Homo sapiens: one gene and its partner. The protein of the gene in region 1 purifies or fractionates together with the protein of each later gene. This does not show direct contact. Each region holds a gene or a part of one and is shown on either strand. Other genes may lie near its edges. The genes, in order: GNB4 and MTNR1B.

Region 1 (7,575 bases):
CAAAAAAATAACAACAAAAAAAAATCCAACAATAACAAAAAAGATCTAGGACTATGAATTGAAGCTTTCTTTTTTAAAAAATCAAAAACCCTTATGACTTGGAGATTCAAAGTTATAAGAGCACATTACTTGTAAGAATCCTTGAAGGCAATTTGTTGTTAAAATCATGCCATAGAGCTCAACACTTTAAATGCATAATAAATTTTCTCTAGAAATGCTATTCACTTACACTGACAGCATTGATATCTGAGACATGTCCCGTGAAAGACTGTCTACACATTCCATCTCGAATATCCCATAATTTGGAAGAGGCATCACAAGCACCAGAAACAAAAGTCCTCATGTCAGGACTCAAAGAAAGACTCATCACATCTCCAGAATGCCCAGTGAATGTGGTGGTCTGCTGGGCAGTTTCGATGTCCCATAAAGCACTGTAATTAAAAACAAAATTTCATGACAATTACTTCTTCTTATGTCAGTTCCTGCTACCACCCTCAAACCCATAATCAGTGTGCTTCTGGAATAAACTTACCAAGTTGTATCTCCTGAACTTGTAACAATTTGGCTGTCATCTAAAAAACGACAGCAGGACAAGTACCCTACAGCATAAAGAGTAGCAAATTTTAGGTTATCACTGATTGAATAACTCAGTTACCATGTGAAATAGCAATATATATTTTTAAAAATAGAATACTTGGGCAACAAGTGTTTGTCAATATAGTCTATAGTTCTACTTTTAGTTACTTCAAATCCTACATTGTCTATAAACCAAATTTTATCCACAAACCATTCTTAGGCATTAACTATGTTAATGACATTGTGCTGGGTACTCTGAAAGTTACCAAATTGAATAAGACACAGCCCCTGCCACCTAAGACAATTACCTTGGGAAGAACTATAATCTATGGCCGACTGTGTTAAGCACCCTGGAGAAATAGTTTTAAAATACTGTGAGAGGATGCCTCTGGGTGCACCGCCTATGAGTTAGCCCTTCTCTGCAAGGAGCAGTTAAAAAAATTTTTTTTTCAAATAAAAAATATTAAAAAAATAAAATATTGTAAGAAATCAGAAGAACAACAGTGAAGACTTTATGAAAGATGTGGCATTTGAATGCTTAGCATTCATCAGTGTTTCAAAATATGGAAATGTCAGAAAAACACCATTCTAGAGATTTTGTAAAAGCATGGTCAAATAGTATGGCTAAAAATTCAGATGGATAGATACCAGATAAGTGGCAATAAATTCCTGATTAACACCACTAACCCAATACTACACTATTGAACTATGATGGGCACACTGGCAAACAAAGCAATACACTATCATGGTGAAAAGCACTTCACTAATGTACCTTAATGCATACTTTCAATTATGTAATTGAGTACAGATGCCACAATCCCATAATTGTTATATGGCAGCAGAAAATGGAGAACATTTTATTTGCTTTATTTTTCATGAGTTTGAATTTTGTGCAGTAAATTTATCATTTTTTACAAAAACAATACAGCTATTTTTGAAAAATAAAATTATGATCAACGTTTGTATGACTATAAAAAGTTAATGTTTCCTTTGTTCATAATAATTTCATTCCCACCCGATTAATCCTCATCCTTTAGCCAGCCGAGCACAATCTGTCATTTGTCCTTGATCAGCACATTCCACACAAGGAATCGTGTGGTGGGAAAGAATATTTAGGGAAGCTCACCTGTGTGACCTGGCAACTCTCGGCTTACTCTCACATTTCCCTCTCTGGTCTTTAAGTTATATATAGAGCAGATGTTGTCCAAGCCTCCACAGGCAACATAATTACCAGAGGGAGCATAAGCACAGGTCATCACCCAGGAGGACCTCAAAGGAATAGCATGCATCTGTAGGGCACACACCACACATCACTCAGATTACAAAAACAGTCATCTATTGCATAAACCCATTTACAATGAAGTAAATATTATTAAAAATTAAACACATCTAAGAAAGATAAGTCAAATAAAATAATGTAATGGCTTGAGAAAGTGAACCATGAAAAATACAACACTAACGCACATTAAAATGCCTATTGTTTTGTATTATCAAATCATTTGAGTCAAAAAGTGCTCTTTTTGGAAATAATTCTCTTAATAAAATAATGAACATAAAGATGTTCCAAGGTTAATATACTGCCATTTGAAAAATTAAGTGTAAAATGTTAGAGGTTTTAATAGAATTTTCACTTTTGTAATAGTGCTCAGAAGAGAAATTTCCTCCAACATAACTCTGAACAAGAACTAGGGAAATAATTAGCAAGTATCAGAGTCGATTACATGAGTCTTCCATGAAAAGACAACACTGGCATCCCTCTATTAATAGGCCCTTATTCTGGGATCTCATTCAAACAATGGTGATAGTTTTTTATTGCTCTAGAAACAACACTGTCTGCTGCCTTGTTACCCTAACACCAATCATTTGAAGGTCAGATGGAAAAAAGGTGTATGAGAATACCACGGCTAAACAGTCCATACAGGGAATCAACACGTGGCAGGATTACTACTATGCTCTCACTTAACCTAAAATAATACGCTTAAAATACATTTTTTTTGTTTTATGAAAATATAGTTGAAAGATAATGTGCTTAATGATGATTAATAAAGAAAAACTATTATATTACAAAATTGTCTTAGCTAGCTTTAAAATCTCAATCAGGTTGAAATTATTATTTCACAAAATGGTATTTTCAAATGTTTAATAAAAATACTAATATGTATACACAGAGTATAAAGGTATTAGCTTATCAAAGTATTCCTGAAGCTTTTTCACCACTCAACTATTTTAAACTGGGGATTCCTTCCAGTGGATGTATTAGGACCATCCACAGTCTTTTACCACCAAGAGATCTACGTAAGTTGTCATTTACCTCCAATCTACTGTATCTTCTAAAAAGTCCAGAAGCACAAATCAGTGCCTGGAGCGGGCCAAAGAAGAGCTTCCCACTAGCCATCTAACTTATCCAAAACTAGAAATAAAAATCTCAAGGTCTTTGTCATATTAGGAAATGGGAATTTTTAAAAATCATTTATTAGTATATGTAAAATGGTACTCTTCTAATATTCATATATTAAATATGAGCCCTCTAGTAAAACATAGAGTCATCTTTGGAAATGAAAAAGGGTTAAACATTAAAAGTAAACACTAAGACAAAAGAGAAGAACTAGATTAAAATAAACAATAAATTTATCTCAGAAAGCAATTTAAGTTTGAGGTAAAAGAATAAAGGAAAGAACTGGTGAACAGCCAAACAAATATAAGGTTATTTAAAAGAATTATGAAGAAATTCTACCTTATTTGTTGTATAGCTATCCCAAATAATTAATTTTCCATCTTGAGAAGCACTGACTAGCAGCCTAGAGGAACAAACACAAAAATAATTTGACACTTAGAGGGAAAAAATAGCTTAAATTGGTTATGCATTGCATTAATGTAGAATAATTCAGAAAAATACAATTTTTCCAACTAAAAACTTGATACCAAAAAATGTTCTTCCAACTTTTAAAAAATTTATGCTGCATGCCAAAAATCTTGAACATATTTCATAAAATAAAATTTAGCAACTGACTAAAAATGTCTGGCTATGATTAAACATTTTTGTGGTAACAACATCTTAGTTATACAAGATTTGGGTGGATATTAGCTGACTGGTTTAGTACTTACTGACTTACTTAAATTTCATGACAAGAATGTACATAGAAGCCTAACAACCATATTTCATCCAATCTAAAAACACCAATTGAGAGCCTGAGAATATGACAATACTAGAGGTACAACGCAGGATACATCGCCTGCTCTTGAGGCCTCTACCATCTGGTGAAGATAAGACATTTACTCATATTTATATTAAATCAAGTAAGTAAAAACTGTCAGAAGAGGGGTATAAAATAAATGCCACAGGAGAGTAAAGGAGGAACAATGGCTAGATGAGTTAATCACAAGAGAATGAGTCTTGAAAGAAAATGTTGAGAGCTAAAGATACAGAAAAGGCTGTATTTTAGGAGAAAGCTATGTAAGATCAATGACAGGTAGAAAAATACACTGAGTGTTGTTTCAGGAATTGTGGGTCTTCCAGTAGTACAGTTTGTGAGAAAATGGAAAAATAAGTTGAGAAAAGCAGACTGGGCTTAAACTGCAGAAAGCTTTGTTAAACTAAAGAGTATGAACTCCTAAGTAATTTTAGCCACTAAATTTTTTGTTTTGTTTGGATTTTTTTTTTTTTTTTGAGACAGACACTCACTGTGACACCCAGGTTAGAGTGCAATGGCACGATCTCAGCCCACTGCAACCTCCGCCTCTCAGGTTCAAGTGATTCTCCTGCCTCAGCCTCCCGAATAGCTGGCATAACAGGTGTGCACCACCACGACTGGTAAGATGGGATCTCAACATGTTGGTCAGGCTGGTCTTGAACTCTTGACCTCAAGTGATCCACTCGCTTGGCCTCCCAAAGTTCTGGGATTACAGGCATGAGCCACCATGCCCAGCCTTGTTTGGAATTTTTACTTTTCACCATGGTGTAAAATTCAAAAAATAAAAAAGGATATACAGAAGAAAATTTAAAAAGCACCTTCCTGGGCCTATCATCAGCCACCCAGTTCCTTTCCCTAGAGGTAAATAACATTATCAGATTCTTGGGTAGCAATCACTACAAGGTTTTACAAAAGGGAAGATCTATCTGATAGTGGGGTATAGGATGGCATCTAAAGAAAATTCTTTAGAAATCAATTGGCATCATCAGCATAAGAGTTGAGGAGAACATTAAGTAATGGATTGATAACACGGATGGGTGGGAAGACTATGTGAGATAGGTTCCTGGATGATGGTTTCATTTTTCTATGAAGATTAACAGTCTTCAGAAAACGTTTAAGGAAAGCAAGAACCATAAACATTGTTTCAAGTTACTATATTTTAAGTTAAAATTTTGCTTTATCAACAGGTAAATTATTTTTATCTTCAACTCCTTTAAGAAAAAGAATAAGACATTCGGCCAGGCGCGGTGGCTCACACCTGATTAATCCCAGCACTTTGGGAGGCTGAGGCGGTTGGATCACCTGAGGTCAGGAGTTCAAGACCAGGCTGGCTAACATGGTGAAACCCCCTCTCTACTAAAAATACAAAAATTAGTCAGGCGTGGTTGTGGATGTCTGTAATCCCAGCTACTTGGGAGGCTGAAGCAGGAAAATCCCTTGAACCTGGGAGGCAGAGGTTGCAGTGAGCCGATACCACACCATTGTACTCCAGCCTGGGCAACAAGAGTGAAACTCTGTCTCAAAAAAAAAAAAAAAAAAGAAAAAAGAAAAGAAAAAGAAAAAGATTAAGACATTATGTCAGTTGCCAATTATATAATTTTATGTATCCCTTCGTAAGAGGCACATGTTCTATATTATTGTGGTCAAGTATCCCAATTAGAGCAACAATTGAGGCTTCTTCTACTTTATAATTTTAGTGTCTCCTGGGAGAAGAGAATAAATGTGCAACTTCTATTAAAACATAGAAGTTTCTTGGTTTAGGCATTTCCCATTAAGATTAACCAAATCAAAGGAACAAGTAAACCACTGTGATAGCAGACACATCTGCTATTGCCAGACAATGGAAAAACATAGGCTGTGCTGTAGCCTTATACACATAGTGAATGACAGTGATGAGCAATCTATCTAACTGTAGGCCACGTAGCAGCTGTGCGTGTGCCTGTGCACCTGCAGATGGTCAGCTTGCACATTCAAGCACACACCTTTCTGTGATGCAGTCGAGGGAGTAAAAGATGTATTCAGTACAAACACCTTTGTTTCATGTAATTTCCATTATTTGCGAATTTATGTAATAACAAACTATAGCAATATCCAAAAACTTGCACATAGGTGTTCAATACGTATTTGCTTATGAACTGAAATTTCAAGCTTCATATACAGTAAAAACGCTTTGTGCCTATTTAAAAAACAAAGAATGTCTGCAATGTTCCACTGCAAAGAAAAGGAATCCTCTTCTGAACAGTTGTCCTGGATTCCATATTAAAAATGTTTATACTTTTAAAGAGTCAATTAATATTCTTATTGAAAGCAGCATGTTCATCTGAGATGCATTTTCTGCAAACGCTTCATGAATATATTCTGTTTTTAAACAAAGAAAATGCAAATGATGGTTCTTAATGAAAATAATTCTGCAACAGTTTAAAAATGACAGGTAATGACAGGTACAAACCTGGAATCGTATCCCCAATGCATAGCATAGATTTTAGCTAGGTGGCCCCTCAGTGTACGTCTTGTTCGCATTTGTATTCGACCCACAGAGTCCATATTTGATGTAATCTTTTGAAAGCAACAAAAATGTTATTCTTTACCTTAATCATAGTTCATGAGATAACTTGAACTAGAAACAGTGAGGAGTTAAAAAAGCAAACATAAAGTACATTTATAGTAACTGAAGGTAATTTAATGTATATAATTCCACAGAGCCGTTATGGGATCAATATGTTCCTGAAAATTATGATTAGTTTAAAATAATCCTATGTGCTGTTATAAATAATATACATAAATGTATAATAAGAATGCCTTCTGCAGACTATTAACTAAAAAGAATAGATATACCTCTATGCTTTAGTAAAAAACCAGCCACAAATAAAAATCTAGAGGCAAATGATCACAGTAAACATTTACAATTTTAACTGTAAGAAAGCCAATTTTATATTTGTAGAGCACATAAAATACTTCCTTAATAATAATGATCAATATTAATTAAACATGAAGCCTTCCCAAGATTTTTTAAAAATATTAGTCTTCTTGACCCCTCTTACTATCTCATTCCCAACCTAAGAGTTTTCATAAGGAAAAAAACACTTAATCAGGGTATACCAAAAAGAATCAGAAACTATTTAAAAAGAAGCATAAACTATATGAATCTATACATACATATATATATACATACATAAATATATATAATTTTTTTTTTTTCGAGACAGAGTCTCACTTTGTCTCCTGGGCTGGAATGCAGTAGGGATCTCGGCTCATTGCAATATCTGCCTCCCAGGTTCAAGCGATTATCCTGCCTCAGCCTACCAAGTAGCTGGGATTACAGGCAGGCACCACCATGACCAGCTAACTTTCATGTTTTTTTTTTTTTTCTAGTAGAGACAGGGTTTCACCATGTTGGCCAGGCTGGCCTCAAACTCTTGACCTCAAGTGATCCTCCCACCTCGGCCTCCCAAAGTACTGGGATTACAGACATGAGCCACCATGCTTGGCCTTGAAAATATATATACATATATATATATATATTTTTTTTTGAGACGGCGTCTCACTCTTCTCGCCCAGGCTGGAGTACAATGGTGCGATCTCAGCTCACTGCAACCTCTGCCTCCTGGGTTCAAGTAATTCTCCTGCCTCAACCTCCCGACTAGCTGGGATTATGCCCAGCTAATTTTTTTTATTTTTAGTAGAGATGAGGTTTTACCATGTTGGTATAGCTGGTATATTTTTATAGCATTTATTTTTCCATAGATGTCTATTTTAACAATATATTTTAAAAAGCACTCGCACTGTATAGCATTTGACAAATTACGAA
Region 2 (8,313 bases), on another chromosome or scaffold:
TGCCATGGGCTGTGCAAGACTCTGAGAATGTAGCAAAGAGTGAACACACTTGGCCTTACCTTTTAAGTTGGGTCGGTGCCCTGACCCTACCTCCCACCTTGCCTCCACTCCTCCCTGTCTGCCTTTCTCTGGTGCTATCTCTGAAGTCAACCCACCACATGCAGCAACAGACACTACAGATAGGATATCCCTGAAAAAAAAAAGACAATTAATCTAACCACTCACCCTGCCATCAGGAGCGGCACTGTTAGGAATGATACAGATCTGCTCCATAGAGGAACTGGGTTTGTGATAGGCAAGTAAAGGATACTGGTGTCTCCTGGGAAACATGCTGTGACCTCAATATGGGCTATGTATCTTGGTTATTGGAAATATATGTATTCTCATTGTTACAGACTTAATTTTTTAATACCAATGATTTAAGGAGCCAGACTTAAGTACAGAAAGGTCTGAAGAAGCGTTTCTTAAATTAAATCCAAACTCTTCAGTAAGACAAGGCCTGATTAAGAGTAGAATGTGTGCTAACTATTCAAAGAGCTGTAGGTTTTAAGCGCCTTTTGAAATCTCACTCTGCTGAGATCATTTAGTTCAAGTCAGTACTACAATTGTTTGTGACTGTCACCAATAAAGCCAGAGGTCACATAAGAACTGGTTAAATTGCAAGACTGCAGCAGTGGCAGGAATTGATGTCATTTAGATATAGTGTTATTATTATTTTTTTTTGTTCGGGTGCTGGGCTGTAGCGGACACATCAGGAGGTAGGAAAGATAGAACAGAGGATATGCCAGCAATTTAACATGCTCATGACCCTCCCCAGTGATGCTCTTAAACTGGTTAGGTTTCTGCAGACCCTGCCAGGATCACAGAAAAGGCCAGCCCTCTGTAGGATGCAGGAGGGGAGGGGTGCTTTTCTCCTTCCAGCAAAAGGAAGCAACTCCTACTTCCCTCAACCACCTTTCTCATGGTGGGCAATCCAAATTACTGAGCAGGGAGCCATGGCCTGACAGACCTGCTCTAAATACTCAATAAGTCAGGGACAGAAGGGGCCAATGTCAGAACCAGGAGGACCCATTTCTCCCCCATAGAGCCAGGAGTTGTCTCCCTTTTGCTTCCCTGTGCTGGAAATGAATGTTTATGATGGCTGCAAGGGACAATGTGTCAAAAATATTAAATGCAGTTTTCTAATCATAACCTGTTTTTCCCTAATATATAAGCTTTTCTTCAAAGGACACAATATTTTGAACAATGTATTCCAGAAAACAGCCACCACTACTGAAGTGAGTTAGAAAGTTTACTTCTTCTTAATAATGTTATGTTTCCCATATGATGGCTGGATACTCACAGTTGGAGGAGTTTCTTGTTTGTTTTTTTAGCTAAAAATCCTAGAGTTGGCCGGGCGCAGTGGCTCATGCCTGTAATTCCAGCACTTTGGGAGGCCGAGGCGGGTGGATCACTTGAGGTCAGGAGTTCGAGACCAGCCTGGCCAACATGGTGAAATACTGTGTCTACCAAAAATATAAAAAATTACCTGGGTGTAGTGGCGAGCGCCTGTAATCCCAGCTACTCGGGAGGCTGAGGCAAGAGAATCCCTTGAACCTGGGAGGCAGAGGTTGCAGTGAGCCTAGACCATGCCACTGCACTCCAGCCTGGGTGACAGAGTGAGAGACTCCATCTCAAAAAAAAAAAATTTCTAGAGTCACAGGCCACACCAAATACATATTACTATTTGCTAAAAATGGTCTGACTCCTTAGAAAAGCATTTTTAAGCTATATGGTTGTTTTACTGCTGCTATCTTTCCATTTTAATTCACTCTAATATTTGAATTTGCTCCCAAGGCCCAACTTGAAGAAACTGCAAAATTAACAAACAGGTGACTGAGCTCCTTCCTAAGCTGAAGTGGTCATCATGCCCCATGACCTGTGAGGGCTAGAGTTCAGATACTGCCCCCCACTCTGGTTTTGTTTCTTTGAAGACCTGACTAGGGGAATATTGAAATGAGAGTGGATTGAAATAGGAAAAATATTTTCAGGATTACAACACGATTTAGCCAAATCATTGCTTTAATTTTCACAGTTAATCCCAGGAATTCCCAGTCTTCGGAAAAGACCACAATATTTCAAAGCAATTTAGTTCAGTCCAAGCAGAATCTGCAATTTCTGCATTTACTCTCCGTCAACTGGAATTGGGTCTTCAGATGACCTGGAGATAAGTTTTTGACACAAAACCTACTGAAATGCTTCCATTGATTAACTCATTTTTTCAGCAAGGATTTTCTAAGCGACTACTACATAAAGCTACAGTGCTTGGCAAGGAAGGAAGTGGGATGTCAAGTACAGGTGGTGAGATTTCTGTGGCCTGATGTGGGCACCTCTGGAAAGACACGCATTGGAGCGCGACGGGGTAGCGATGGCATCCAGCAGCGTGGGTTCCCACAGCGCCGGCGCCCGGCCAAAAAGCGCGCCAGTAAAACTTTCCGCAATTCCCTCTGTGCCAAGCGCGTCCTGGGCAGCCGCACTTCGGAGGGGCAAAACTCACCCTAACTTTTGAGTGCAGAGTCAAACTTAAGGAATAGGTTAGAGTGAAGGGAAAGGGGAGCCCGGGCTGAGGAGGGAAAAGGCAGCGCATATCCCGGGGTCAGGGACAAGATCAGAAGACAAGGAAGGGCCCGATGCCAGCACCCAGCATCAGGAATGGTGCTCACCTGCGTTCCGGAGCTTGCGGTTCCTGAGCACGGAGAGGATCACCAGGAGGTTGCCCACGACGTCCACGGCGGTGGTGACGATGAGCACCGCGGACAGCGCTGGAGCCACCCAGGGAGGTCGAGGGGTCCTGGAGGGCCGCGCGCTGCCAGCCCCCGACCAGCCCGGGCGCACTGCCCACCCGCCCGCCTCGCAGCAGTTGGCGAAGGAGCCGTTCTCTGACATCGCAGACTCTCCCGCGCTGTGCTTTGGCCACCGCGCGGCCCCGGACAGCCGCAGGGCGCGCGCAGTACTGAGCCGGGCGCTCTCTTCCCTGCCCAGCTCGCGTGTGCAAGGGAGGAGGCCAGTGGGGAGGGGTCTGGAGGAGATAACTAATTAAGCGTGGGCAGGGGATGGAGAAAAATATAGGAATGGGAGGAGGACTTGGGGTGCAGCCGTTGTAGAAGGGAGTGCGTCCCTCAGCGGTGCGCTCAGGAACAGCTGGGACCGCACAGCTGTCTCTGCCACCCCGAGCCCAGCAGGTGCCTGGCCCACCTCAGGCTGCGGAGCGCGTCTAGCTTCTGTCCCTGAGTATATAGCCACACCCGAGACCCCGATTTCCTCCACAGCGTCCCCAAGAGAAGCTGTGTCTAGGTAGGGACGTCCAACCCAGGTTGATAGACTGGAGAAGGTGCTGATGGTAGGGACCTCCCATCAGTTGTCAAGAAAGGCAAGGTTTGACGTCCCATAGGGCTGTGCAGCCCGAAAGAGAATGCAACTCCTAAGATGTGGGGACAGAGCCCAGAACAAAGTAGGGTAGACTGTTATATTCTAGGGAGCTGCAGAAAAATACGAACCTAGCCATTTTCCAAGCACTCGCTGGGTATTGTGGGGGGCATTGATGATGTCTCTACTGGGTCCTCTTTATAAAGCCAATACTTTAACATATTTACCAACATATATTTACACATAATACTTAAATAGATGTATGGCCAATATTGGGGGTTATGATGTGGTTTTTGGAGGGGTTAGGACAAGAAGAAGATTGAGGCATGATTACAATAAAGAAGGAACTCAGGTGCCCTTTATTAAAAATGTTTGAGTCGTGATCTGGTGATAATAATAATAGATAACTTCTAATGGGGGCTAATCTTATGACCCCAAAGCACTTTTCACACCCATTAGAATCACTAAAATCAAAATGACTGATTATCCTATATTTGTGGAGGAAGTTAAGCAACCAGAACCCTCATACACTGCTTTTATGAGAATGCAAAATGGTATAGCCACTTTGAAGAGCTGTCTGTTAGCTCCTAATAAAGTTAAATATACACCTATTCTATGACCAGAAGTTCCAAATGAAAAGGAAAGTATATTTCCACCAAAAGACCTGTACAAGAATGTCCAGAGCAGCCTTGTTTATAGGAGCTCAAATCTGGTAACACCTGCAATTTCCACCAACAGAAGAATGGATAAGCAAATTATGGTATGACCTTGCAATGGAATACTACTCAGCAATAAAGATGATTGACCTACACAACAGCATGGATTAATCACAAATATGTTGTATTGAACAAAAGAAGCCAGATACCAAAAAATATATACCATATTATTCCAGTTATAGGAAGTCCAAAATCAGGGAAAATTAATCTATTTTCTAATAGAAATCAGAAAAGTGGTTACATTTGAGGGTGGGTATTGAGAAACAAACACCAAAAAATTTCTGGATTGTTATTTTTACATATGTTATTTTACGTAAGTTATATTGCCCCTCTCCTTTAAAGGGGGGAAAAAAAGAAGGAAGGATGCAGTGGAGACGGAGGGGCTGATGATGCAGAGGCATGAGTGGATGTTGAAGGGAAGGGAGAGGGAAGGGAGAGGTGAAGTGAGCTCATCCTTGAAGTGAGCTAATCCAGAACTCCTTAAAGTGAGCTCATCCAAAACCCAAGGAAGAAATATTATTTGTTAGGAGAGGGAGGCTTTCTTTCTTGTAGTAGAAAGGAATCAGAAGCCAGATGCAAATTCAGATGCACTTCTAAACTGGTGTGAGGAAAGAAGAGAACTCTTGTCTGGCTTCTGTATTCTCAGGGAGATAGAGGCTACCCATTAGCCAGGATTCAGGGGAACAGTGTAGGAGATTTGAAGACAAAAAAAAGATATGAAGGAGCACTTCAGAAAGTGGAAACATTAACTAGTAAAGTATAACAGGCGTGTCAGGAGCATGAATGTCCCCCTGCAGCTTGAGATGATGGCTTCAAATGATGCCACTCAGCCTGGCCAGTGGTTGTTAATCAGCAACTTGGAGCTACTCAGGACAGGCATGGAGAAGGCAGAGTGAATTTCAGTCAGGATTGGGGTCTGCTGGGTAGGAGCAAATAACAGAAGAAAGTTCAGGGGCCTGGTGAGAAGATGGATCCTGGGGTTTACATTAATGAGGGGTGATGAGAAAACAGAGGGGCTGATGGGCTGTGAGACAAAGGAAAAGTCAAGAGATTGCAGGCCCTGTGACTTCAAGGAATTGTGGTGAGTGAATCAGAAAATGTAAGTTGTGGTGCTGAAAGGGTGAGTTGTTTGAAACTGAGATGTCTGAGGCATGTAGATTCTGTTGCTGTGAAGGCTCTGAGGGTGATTATGGGTAGTGGGTTGCTGGTGGAAGGTGAGAAAAATGTTGTTAGAGATGAGAAGGTAAAGGAACTGAGAAGTCGGGGGTGGATATTATGGTGGGGTAAGAAAAGGAAAACTATGAGTCAGGAGGCGAATCCCCAGTGAATGAGGAGGAATGACCAACATGTCCTCAGGAGAGCAACAGCAAAGGGGAAAGAGACACCAATGGGCAGTGTCAAAGCCAAGAGGCTTTTTCAGGAAGAAGAGACAGCCACGCCTTCCCTGTCTTACAGGTGCAAACACATCGTGGCACTTCTCAACTTTCACACGCCAACATAGCAATAGGTGAGTTGGACACAGTATAAGTTACCTCCATCCAGACACACCCTCTAATAACACACATTTGTTAAACTGAGCATGAAACATAGGAATTTGCCCTATGCTGCCTTGGAATGTGATTGTCCATAATAGCATATCTCAAGATAGGCACAAAGAATTGGGATGTTCACCTATCTAAGAAGTCAATGCTACATCCTGGCATGGCTGGCCAGGCTGTGCCTTAAAATGGTGGGGGAATGATACAGCCACTTTGGAAGGCAGTTTGGTGATGCACTGCAAAACAACACATACCCTTACCATCGCATCGAGCAATTGTATTCCTTAGTACTTACCCAAGTGAGTTGAAAATATATGTCCACAGAAAGACCTGCACACCGATGTTTACAGCAATTTTACTTATAATTCCCAAACTTGGAAGCAACCAAGATGTCTTTCAATAGGTGAATAAATAAACAAACTGTGTGGCACATCCAGACAATGGAATATTATTCTGTGTTAAAAAGAAATGAGCCATGATGCCATGAACACTCATGGAGGAACTGTAAATGCATATTACTAAGTGAAATAAGCCAGTCTGAAAGGGCTACATACTGTTTCTTGATTCCAATTATATGACATTCTGGAAAAGGCAAAATTATGGATACAGTAAAAAGATTAGTGGTTGCCAAGAGTTTGGGGTGAGGGAAAGATGAATAGGTTGAGCACGGAGGATTTTTAAGGCAGAGGAACTGTTTCATATGATACTATAATGGGTAATACATGTCATTATACATTTGTCAAAACCCAAAGAATGTACAACACCAAGAGTGAACTGTAATGTAAACTATAGCATCGCAGATACTGCTGTGCCTGAATATAAACTAAAAAGATTATTTGTACAAAAGGCAAAAATAATAGTTGCTGCCAACAGTATAATGAAATTTTATGGGAAGAAAATCAAACTCTGGAGAAGGAGAGGGAAAAAAGACAAGAGAGTTTCAAGATTACTAGATGTTTTCTCAAAGAAATAAATCAACATTTTGAATGCTTACCGAGTGTCCTAGGATTTAAAAATTGAGCAGAACTGGTTTTCTCAACACGTATCCCAAGTTCAAACTCAAATGAATATCTGACCGTAGAAGCTCATTGTCATGTATCCCAACAGTAACACCTTTTACTCCAGATAGTACTTGAAACCTTTCCCAAACATCTTTCAACCAGGGTATCTTGGGAGATAGCAGTGATTGGCCCAGCTAGAAAAGAAGGAAACAGACTGTCAGAGAAGTGAATTGCCAAGGTTGGTGGCTGATGAGTGACCAGTGGCATTATGCAATCTATTTATTTTATTAAGTGTGTAATGAGGTCCAGGTACAGTGGCTCACACCTGTAATCCCAACACTTTGGGAGGCTGAGGCCAGAGGATCACTTGAGGCCAGGAGTTGAGGCTAGGCAACAAAGTGAAACCTTGTCTGTACAAAAAATAAAATAATTAGCAGGCACGATGGCATGCACCTGTGGTCCTAGCTACCCAGAAGGCTGAGGCAGGAGGGTTGCTTGAGCCTGGGAGGTCTAGGCTGAACGAGCTGTGATCATGCCAGGGCACTCTAGTCTGGGCAACTCAGTGAAACCCTGTCACTAAATAAATAAATAAATAAATAAATAAATAAATAAATAAAGTGTGACAGCTTTTACTCCTTCAGTATGAAATATACAAAGAAAATAAGCAAAATTTTCTTTTGGTAATCAGCTTGTAGCATGGCTGACAAGCACTTTTAATAATGCTATAAAGAGTAACTAGCACACAGCTAATATCTAGTAATTGCTCTGCATTACACATAGGGGACATCTGCATTCTTTTGTTTAATCCTCTCATCTCTATGTAACATATTACTGTGTACTGTGAAGAAACTGAGATTTACACAGGTTAAGAAACCTACCCAAGGTTGCTGAGCTAGTGGTTTCAGAGCTAGGATTGCAACCTAGGCTGCCCGATCCTAGAACCTGGGGCCATTTTACTCTTGCAGTGGGATATATTAAAATATACAGACCCTTGTTACCTCACAAGAAAGATAGGGAAACTCAACAATGTTGAGTAGATTGAACCCTGAGAGAAAATAGAGTAAGACTCCAGATGTTCTTGCTGTCAGCTTTGAAAAAAAAATGGTTTATACAGATCACTAAAAAAATATACCACTGCCTAGCATCGTGAAGCTGCCCTAATCTTTCCCTCAGGTGAAGAATGGCCTGGAAAGAAGGATGCTCTACAATAAAAGAGTTTAAACAAGACACAACTACAAAGCCACCACCTTCTGGGCAGCCTCCCTCATATTTCCCAGCACATGCCTGTGGCAGAAACCAGTCGGACGATCCTGTAGTTGAGCCAGGCTGGGCGGGGTCAGAGCAGGCATGTTCTCTCTGCTGCTGGTTGCATGATCTTTACCTTTCCTGACTTTTTCGTTCCCTTCAGAGGAATCAGAATGGGAGTTGCTGTGCCGGTTATTTCAGATTTGAATCTAATCTAACAGCTCAATGTTCAAGCGGAAGGGTCTGACCCTTCCCTCGGGATACAGAGACCCTAAGTAAGCTCGGTCAGTGTTTCTCTATTATCACCCACTGCCCAGAATCGATTGTTTAGCAAATAAATACATACATATTTAAATATATAAATATATCTACATATGAATTATGTATAATTCAATGTTTGCCAGTTTA

Evidence for each region.
Region 2: the proteins of GNB4 (region 1) and MTNR1B purify together in Homo sapiens (tandem affinity purification; 2 studies listed by IntAct). This does not show direct contact.

Annotation. Positions count from the first base shown.
Region 1 is NC_000003.12:179,413,183-179,420,757, forward strand, and holds part of GNB4 (guanine nucleotide-binding protein subunit beta-4), read right to left. Parts: intron 6,324-7,575; coding exon 6,217-6,323; intron 3,375-6,216; coding exon 3,311-3,374; intron 1,866-3,310; coding exon 1,703-1,865; intron 600-1,702; coding exon 533-599; intron 432-532; coding exon 230-431; intron 1-229. UniProt on the Homo sapiens protein: Guanine nucleotide-binding proteins (G proteins) are involved as a modulator or transducer in various transmembrane signaling systems.
Region 2 is NC_000011.10:92,964,338-92,972,650, reverse strand, and holds the start of MTNR1B (melatonin receptor type 1B), read right to left. Parts: upstream 3,001-8,313; 5' UTR 2,926-3,000; coding exon 2,703-2,925; intron 1-2,702.